2 linked regions of the Homo sapiens genome follow. The protein of the gene in region 2 purifies or fractionates together with the protein of the main gene of each other region. This does not show direct contact. Each region holds a gene or a part of one and is shown on either strand. Other genes may lie near its edges. The genes, in order: CTSO and MTFR1.

The links.
Region 1: the proteins of MTFR1 (region 2) and CTSO purify together in Homo sapiens (affinity purification with mass spectrometry; one large-scale study listed by BioGRID and IntAct). This does not show direct contact.

What each region holds. Positions count from the first base shown.
Region 1 is NC_000004.12:155,936,654-155,940,688, forward strand, and holds part of CTSO (cathepsin O preproprotein), read right to left. Parts: intron 2,886-4,035; coding exon 2,718-2,885; intron 831-2,717; coding exon 709-830; intron 1-708. UniProt on the Homo sapiens protein: Proteolytic enzyme possibly involved in normal cellular protein degradation and turnover.
Region 2 is NC_000008.11:65,675,734-65,679,233, reverse strand, and holds part of MTFR1 (mitochondrial fission regulator 1 isoform 1 precursor), read right to left. Parts: intron 1-3,500. UniProt on the Homo sapiens protein: May play a role in mitochondrial aerobic respiration. May also regulate mitochondrial organization and fission.

The sequences.
Region 1 (4,035 bases), on a different chromosome or scaffold from region 2:
GTTTTTAAAGCATTTTTAATGATTGTTTTCCCCAAAACTATCCAAAGTTATCCTGCCCTTCAGTTCCAACACAAGTCCTTTTCCTCAGCCTGTCTTTATCTATCCCTACATTCCCATCATGCTTATAGTGTATGCTACATAATTTATCTTCAGTAGTATATGCTTCCCTCTTTTCTCTAATCTGAAGTTTTGTGTTATATTTTTCAAATGGCTGATGTCTTGAAAAATGCAAAGAACATAGAAGGTGTTCAAAATATGCTTCCTGATATGTAGCCTACGTGATATTAGCTGCACAGTCTGTACAAAGCAATTCTGGATGGACTCACCATTAAGATTGAAATATGCTAATGGTAATATAACACCTAAATTTGATAAGATGAAGGTGGTATATATAAATATAAATTATGCACTAATAATTTGTAAGTATAATAAAATATAAAATATAACAAATAAATATACATATAAATTGTACCTTACACAGAATTAAAATTTTTCATTTCTATCGTAATGACACTTGGGAAAATAAGTAGATTATAATTAAGAAACAACATTTACAACATTTCATTGTAATTGCTACTCTTTCTAGTAAAAAGTATGTTTTACAAGGATTAAGAGTATGCAGTGATGCCTTCAAACAAATTATTAACCAGTCAATAGATCATAAATTAAAAATGTATAAAGAAAAACATAATACAATAAGATCTTTACCTGAAGTCATATGCAGAATAACCTTTGATTGAAAATCCAGAATGTGAACCAGAAAAGTAATGGCACAGACCATTTTGTGCTTTAAAAGGATATTCTGAATCTTTCACCAGTTTTACTTGCATCTAAAAGAAAACAATCACTGAACATGTTTACTGTCAATTGTTTTATAAATCAAATAGAACTTACTTCACTGTGTCAAAACAGGTTCAATTTCACACACCTTCATCATGTGGATATACTTTGCGTTCTTTTTTTTTTCTTTTTCTTTTTTGAGACAGAGTTTTGTTTGGTTGCTCAGGCTGGAGTGCAGTGGCTCGATCTCGTCTCACTGCAATCTCCACCTCCTGGGCACCAGTGATCATCCCACCTCCGTCTCCCCAGTAGCTGTGACTACAGGTATGAGCCACCACGCCAGGCTAATTTTTTGTATTTTTTGTAAAGATGGGGTCTCACTCTGTTGCCCAGGCTGGTCTTAAACTCCTGGACTCAAGAAATCCACCTGCCTTGGCTTCCCAAAATACTGGGATTACAGGTGTGAGGCATTGTGCCCAGCCTATACTTTGGGTTTTTAATATTATAAATTAAATCTTTAGGTGCTTGTTCTGGATAGTCTAGACATTTGGAGTCAATATCTTTCCTTCTCCCTTACTTCTCTTTATCTTACAGCATCCTTTTGTAGATCCTCCATGGATCTAGTAACAGTCTTGTCATCTTTCTCCTGACGGTGCTATAGGGCAGCTCACTTTCCTCCCAGTGCTTCTGGTTCTGCCAAGTCTTTCAGATTCCATCCAGTGGTTTATACACAGGCAACGGTTAGGTCAAGCATTCTTTCTATCACTTCACTTTTATGCCATTCATATAGCATATGTCAAATACTTCATAGTTATCTGTACAAAACCCTCCCTTTTTGAATGCTAGGCTAATGAAAGGGAGGAGACTCATAATTCATTGTCGTCTACAGTGTGTACAGAGCAGGTCCTGGAATACGTGATTAAAAATGCAACCAATGGATAATGGAAGAGAATTCAGGTTTGGGGAACTCTGGTTTGATGACGTTCTACAGAAACTAATAGCACCCTCATTGGCAAATTTCATGCAGTTGATATCGGATCTGGGACACTGTCAGGGCAAGTGCTAAGAACGCTGAGGGACACTGGGGTATACTGAGCAAAGCCCTACTGTGAGAGGCTGGGGACTGAAGGTACAACTCCGGCTCAGCTACTGACTTGACAAAATGATCTCACTTCTCAGGCTTCATTTCTTCATCTATAAAAAGAGCTACAGGCTGGGTGTGGTGGCTCATGTCTGTAATCCCAGCACTTTGGGAGGCTGAGGCGGGTGGATCACAAGGTCAGGAGATCGAGATCAGCCTGGCCAATATGGTGAAACCATGTCTTTACTAAAAAAACAAAAACAAAAAACAAAAAACAAAAAAAACAAAAAAATTAGCCAAGTGTGGTGGTGGGCACCTATAGTTCCCAGCTACTCCGGAGGCTGAAGCAGCAGAAACACTTGAACCCGGGAGGTGGAGGTTGCAGTGAGCCAAGATTGTGCCACTGTACTCCAGCCTGGGTGACAGAGTGAGACTCTGTCTCAAAAACAACAACAACAAAAAAGAGCTAAAAAATTAGTCTCTAATGTTCCTTTTAACCTTAACATTCAGAAATTCTATGAAAATAAAAAAAATATATTCTCATCTTTCCGGGATATTATGAGATATTCAGATCTGCAAAAAAGCATGTATATATTAAGAAATGTTAAGAAATAAATATAAATATTTCTCTGAAGACAGACTTCAGATTTTTCCCCTTTTGATTTCTTGACAACTGCTTTGCCTAGAAGTGATTCATTTTTAAATATTCTGATTAATTACTTCATGCTTTGATCATCTACATTTCCGAACGTGGAAACATTATTTAATATATGTGAACAAACTGTTTGAATTTTGAACACACAGTAAACAAGCAAAAAAGGAAATAAAGAGTTTAAGAGGTTGAGAGACTAGTCACCTTGTTTAACCAGTTCAAAGCATTGAGAGTAGAGCCTCCATTGCAGCCATAATTATTATACGAACAGTCAATGACCTGCTGGACACTTAGGTCTTCCAGGGGCTTCCCCTTTATTGCATAAGCAGATTCCACTGCCCCCACCACGCTGAAGGCCCAGCATCCTCCACACTGTTTAAAAACAGAAAAAGGGGTGGTATTTCCAGGGTTTAAATCAACTTACCAACATCTCTAAATGTAACAAGTTATCAAATCAAGTAAGGCTTCCAGATTCTGGAAACCTACAAAATAAATACGCCTATCCTCTAGATTTTTAAACTGAAAAAAAGAGAAAACCAAAAGTCTCTTTTGAGCATCATTTAATTATTAGTTCATGTTGTCAGCATTATTACTATTCTAAATTTGGCAATGCAAGATAAAAGTGAATTTTTAGAGACCGAGGAAATACTTGGGCTAACTGATGATCTTCTAAAAGACCATTCAGTTCACTGAATATGTGACTTCTCTTTGTAAGTGGCTTTTCTTCTGGAGAGTGTGTGCCGACTCCCGCCCCAACCTTCCATCCCCCTTGCTTTTTTAAGGACACTCTGCTTCCATGGTCATACACCACTTCCATCCTAAGGGTGAGGAGGGGAAAGATGCATGTTGTGCTAATTATTTGATGGAGATAAGAGAATTAATAAATATTAATGAATTACTCTTTAGGCTATAAAGATGCCCGATTAAGTATGCTTATAGTGGATGTACATGAAATGTCCTAAGGATATAAATCCATATTAGTCATTACTCCAGTATTGGCTGCCAATCATGCTGATAGTGGATCTCTTAATTTGCTTTTACTTAACAAACTAGAACAAAAGAATAAAAGAACTAGTCCTGAAAGAAAGAGAGGAGACAGAGGGAATGAAATTAGGGATCGTAGGATCACGTAAAAGGAAGAAGGATCCACAGAAAAGGCAGAAGAGAGTAGGATTTGAGACTGGATGAAACTAACATAACTGGAGGGCCATGTGTGGCAGAGTTAGACCAAAAAAAAAAAGGAATGACAATTGGATATCTTTGCAGAGTTAAGTTTTGAGCAACTTTATGGCTTTAAGTGCTTTTTTAAAGGTTATATCTCTATCTCTAGTGCCTATGGCATAGTAAAAACACTCACTAAGTGACCATACAGCAGGGTCTCCAAACTTTGACAAAGGTGAACACAGGGCAGCTCATGCCTGTAATCCCAGCACTTTGGGAGGCCAAGGCAGGCGGATCATGAGGTCAGGAGTTCAAGACCAGCCTGACCAACATGGTGAAACCCCGTTTCTACTAAAAATAC
Region 2 (3,500 bases):
GTCTTCTATTTAGTCACAAGTCAAAATTCTCCTATGATGTAGTACAAGTGGAATGCTATTTGTGCATTACAACGTGACAATTAGACAGTCTAAAGTGAATCTTTCTCCCCTCCAGCAAGCAAAGGTCTTGTCTGGAGATGAAGAGGACAAAAAGCTCACAAAGAAAAATTTAGAAAGGATTTGCCAAGGTCAGGAACTATGTTTCTGCCTGCTTTTAGCATTCTTCACTACGCATGTTGCAGGGTGAAATGTCAACTATTATGTTTCCATCTGTTTAATATCAGAAAAATACTAGGTGCCTTCAACAAGAGAAGTGGCCAATGATTCAGCTTTTTTTTTTAAATTTTTTTAGATGGAGTCTCGCTCTGTCACCCAGGCTGGAGTGCAGTGGTGCGATCTCGGCTCACTGAAACTTCCATCTCCTGGGTTACAGCAATTCTATCTAGCTAGAATTATAGGCAGGTGCCACCATGCCCAGCTAATTTTTGTATTTTTAGTAGAGACGGGGTTTCACGATGTTGGCCAGGCTGGTTTCGAACTCCTGACCTCAGGTGATCTAATCGTCTCGGCCTCCCAAAGTGCTGGGATTACAGGCATGAGCCACAACGCCCAGCCGATTCAGCTTTTAATTATAAGGAATAAGTAGATTATTTAGGTATCTTCTACAAAGTTAAAGGAAGGAAAAGAACAGATTGCTTTATGTGATTATTTTTTCAAGCATACACAGTAGACTAACATAATGTGTTCTTCTGTTACTTGTGAATTACATAGTACTTAGCACCAATAAATATCAAATAAGGGTCTGTGTAAACTAATGACTGAAATATTTAGAATGAAGAGCCATAACCTTTATTGGATGGTAGGAAAAAGTGAGGGGAAAGAATAGCTAATTTCCAGGAACTCTAAAACTAGGTCTGACTACTTTTCTATTTTTTTCTATTCAGCCCTCATAGAGGGGGAGAAATTGTAAATGGCTGTACAGAAACAGTGAACAGATGGTACTGAAAAGTCACCATCTGTGCATTGGGAGGCTGTATGACCCAAGTGCATCTCCTACCGTAACTTGTGGCTGAACTATGTCTTGTCAGTATGCTAGTTTAGAGAAGGAAAGACTTCCTCTAAAGACAAACTGTCATTAATATTTCTTTAGATGAAAGAGAGAAGGCAGGGAGAAGAAAATGGTCATAAAATAATCCAATTTCTTTTTTTTTTTTTTTTTGAGACAGAGTCTCCCTCTGTTGCCAGGCTGGAGTGCAGTGGCATGATCTCAGCTCACTGCAACCTCTGCCTCCCAGGTTCAAGCAATTCTCCTGCCTCAGCCTCTCCAGTAGTTGGGACTACAGGCACGTGCCACCACACCTGGCTTATTTTTGTATTTTTAGTAGAGACGGGGTTTCACCATGTTGGCCAGGATGGTCTCGATCTCTTGACCTCATGATCCACCCACCTCAGCCTCCCAAAGTGCTGGGATTACAGGCGTGAGCCACCAAGCCTGGCAAGATAATCCAATTTCATTTAGAAAATAAGACAATCCAATGCCATTAAGAAATAGCTGGCTGGGCGTGGTGGCTCACGCCTGTAATCCCAGCATTTTGGGAGACCGAGGTGGGCGGGTCACGAGCTCAGGAGTTCAAGACCAGCCTGGGTAACACGGTGAAACCCTGTCTCTACTAAAAATACAAAATTAGCCAGGTGTGGTGGTGCACGCCTGTAATCCCAGCTACTCAGGAGGCTAAGGCAGGAGAATAGCTTAAACCTGGGAGGCAGAGGTTGCCGTGAGCTGACATCGTGCCACTGCACTCCTGCCTGGGACAGAGCAAGACTCCGTCTCAAAAAAAAAAAAAAAAAAGAAACAGCTAAACAGGGCCAGGCGCAGTGGTTCATGCCTGTAATCCCAGCACTTTGGAAGGCCGAGGCGGGTGGATCATCTGAGGTCAGGAGTTCGAGACCAGCCTGGCCAATGTGGCGAAACCCCGTCTCTACTAAAATATAAAAACTTAGCCAGGCGTGGTGGCACACGCCTGTAGTCCCAGCTACTCAGGAGGCTTGAGGCAGAATTGCTTGAACCGGGAGGTGGAGGTTGCAGTGAGCAAGATCGCGCCACTGCACTCCATCCTGGGTGACAGAGCGAGACTCTGTCTCAAAAAAAAAAAAAAAAAAAAAAAGAGAGAAATAGCTAAACAGAAAAACCATGCTTTATCTATGAAAACTGCTTTTTTAAATAATCTAACAGTGAATCTGTGTGTGTGTGTGCGCGCACATGCATGTCTGTGTCTAGTAATGACAGTCCATAACATTTAGCAACAGTGTTTGAAAGTGATGACAGCAAGGAGGAGGATGACAACAGGAAAGTAGTTTGTTCTTTTTTAACATTGTGAAATGCTATTGTAGAAAGTGTTGACGTGTGAGGCTGGAATCTGAAGCTGTCATCTGTCTCATCCATGATGACTGCACTCAAGCTGTATGTGGTAATTCATTTATTATAGACTAGTTTTACATACATTATTATTTGAGGGCAACTTTTAGCAGGAAAAACTATAAATTTAACTCTAAGAAAAATATGTTTTTCTGGCTGGGTGTGGTGGCTCACGCCTGTAATCCCAGCACTTTGGGAGGCTGAAGAGGGTGGATCACTTGAGGTCAGGAGTTCGAGACCAGCCTGGCCAACATGGTGAAACCCTGTCTTTACTAAAAATACAAAAATTAGCCAGGGGTGATGGCGGGCACCTGTAATCCCAGCTACTCAGGAGGCTGAGGCAGGAGAATCACTTGAATCCGGGAGGCAGAGGCTACAGTGAGCCAAGAATGCGCCACTGCACTCCAGCCTGGGACACAACAAGATTTCGTCTCAAAGAACAAACAAAAATAAATAAAATATATTTTTCAAGACAAGCTATGTGATATTAATGCATTAATGCAGAGGTTCATGTATCCCTAAAATTACACACAAAATTGTGTATGTGTTACTTTTCTGGGAAGAGCATCCATACTGTTAATCAGATCTTTAAAAAGTTAGGACCCAACAAAATGTAAATTCTTAATTCTCAGGGAGCTAAGGGAAAATTAAAAGTGTGTGTTGGGAAGGGGGAAGGAGTGAAAATGGGAAGATGAAATTCTGTAACAATTTTTAAATCCTTAACCAAAGATTAACACTTCCCTCAGTTCTCTTCTTCCTTACTCACATTCCTCCTCCAAAGCACCAAAAGAAAACCAGAGTACAATAATACAAATTATTATAGATACTTGCTATAGTAACTTTTCTTCCAATATAAAATACTGAAATTAATCAGAATCACATTAGCTTCACACTATTCTCACTTCCTGCAATTTAAAAAACATTTTTGCTTAGGGACATAAAAAGTTTGGAGATATGTGAGCATGTAGTTTTAAATTCAAACAAATGTTGAGGGAAAATAAAAGACAGTAAAGAGAAAACAGGCCATTATAGCATATAGGCCTGGCTTTAAAATTAGCCTCTACGAATTTACTGCCTGTATAAA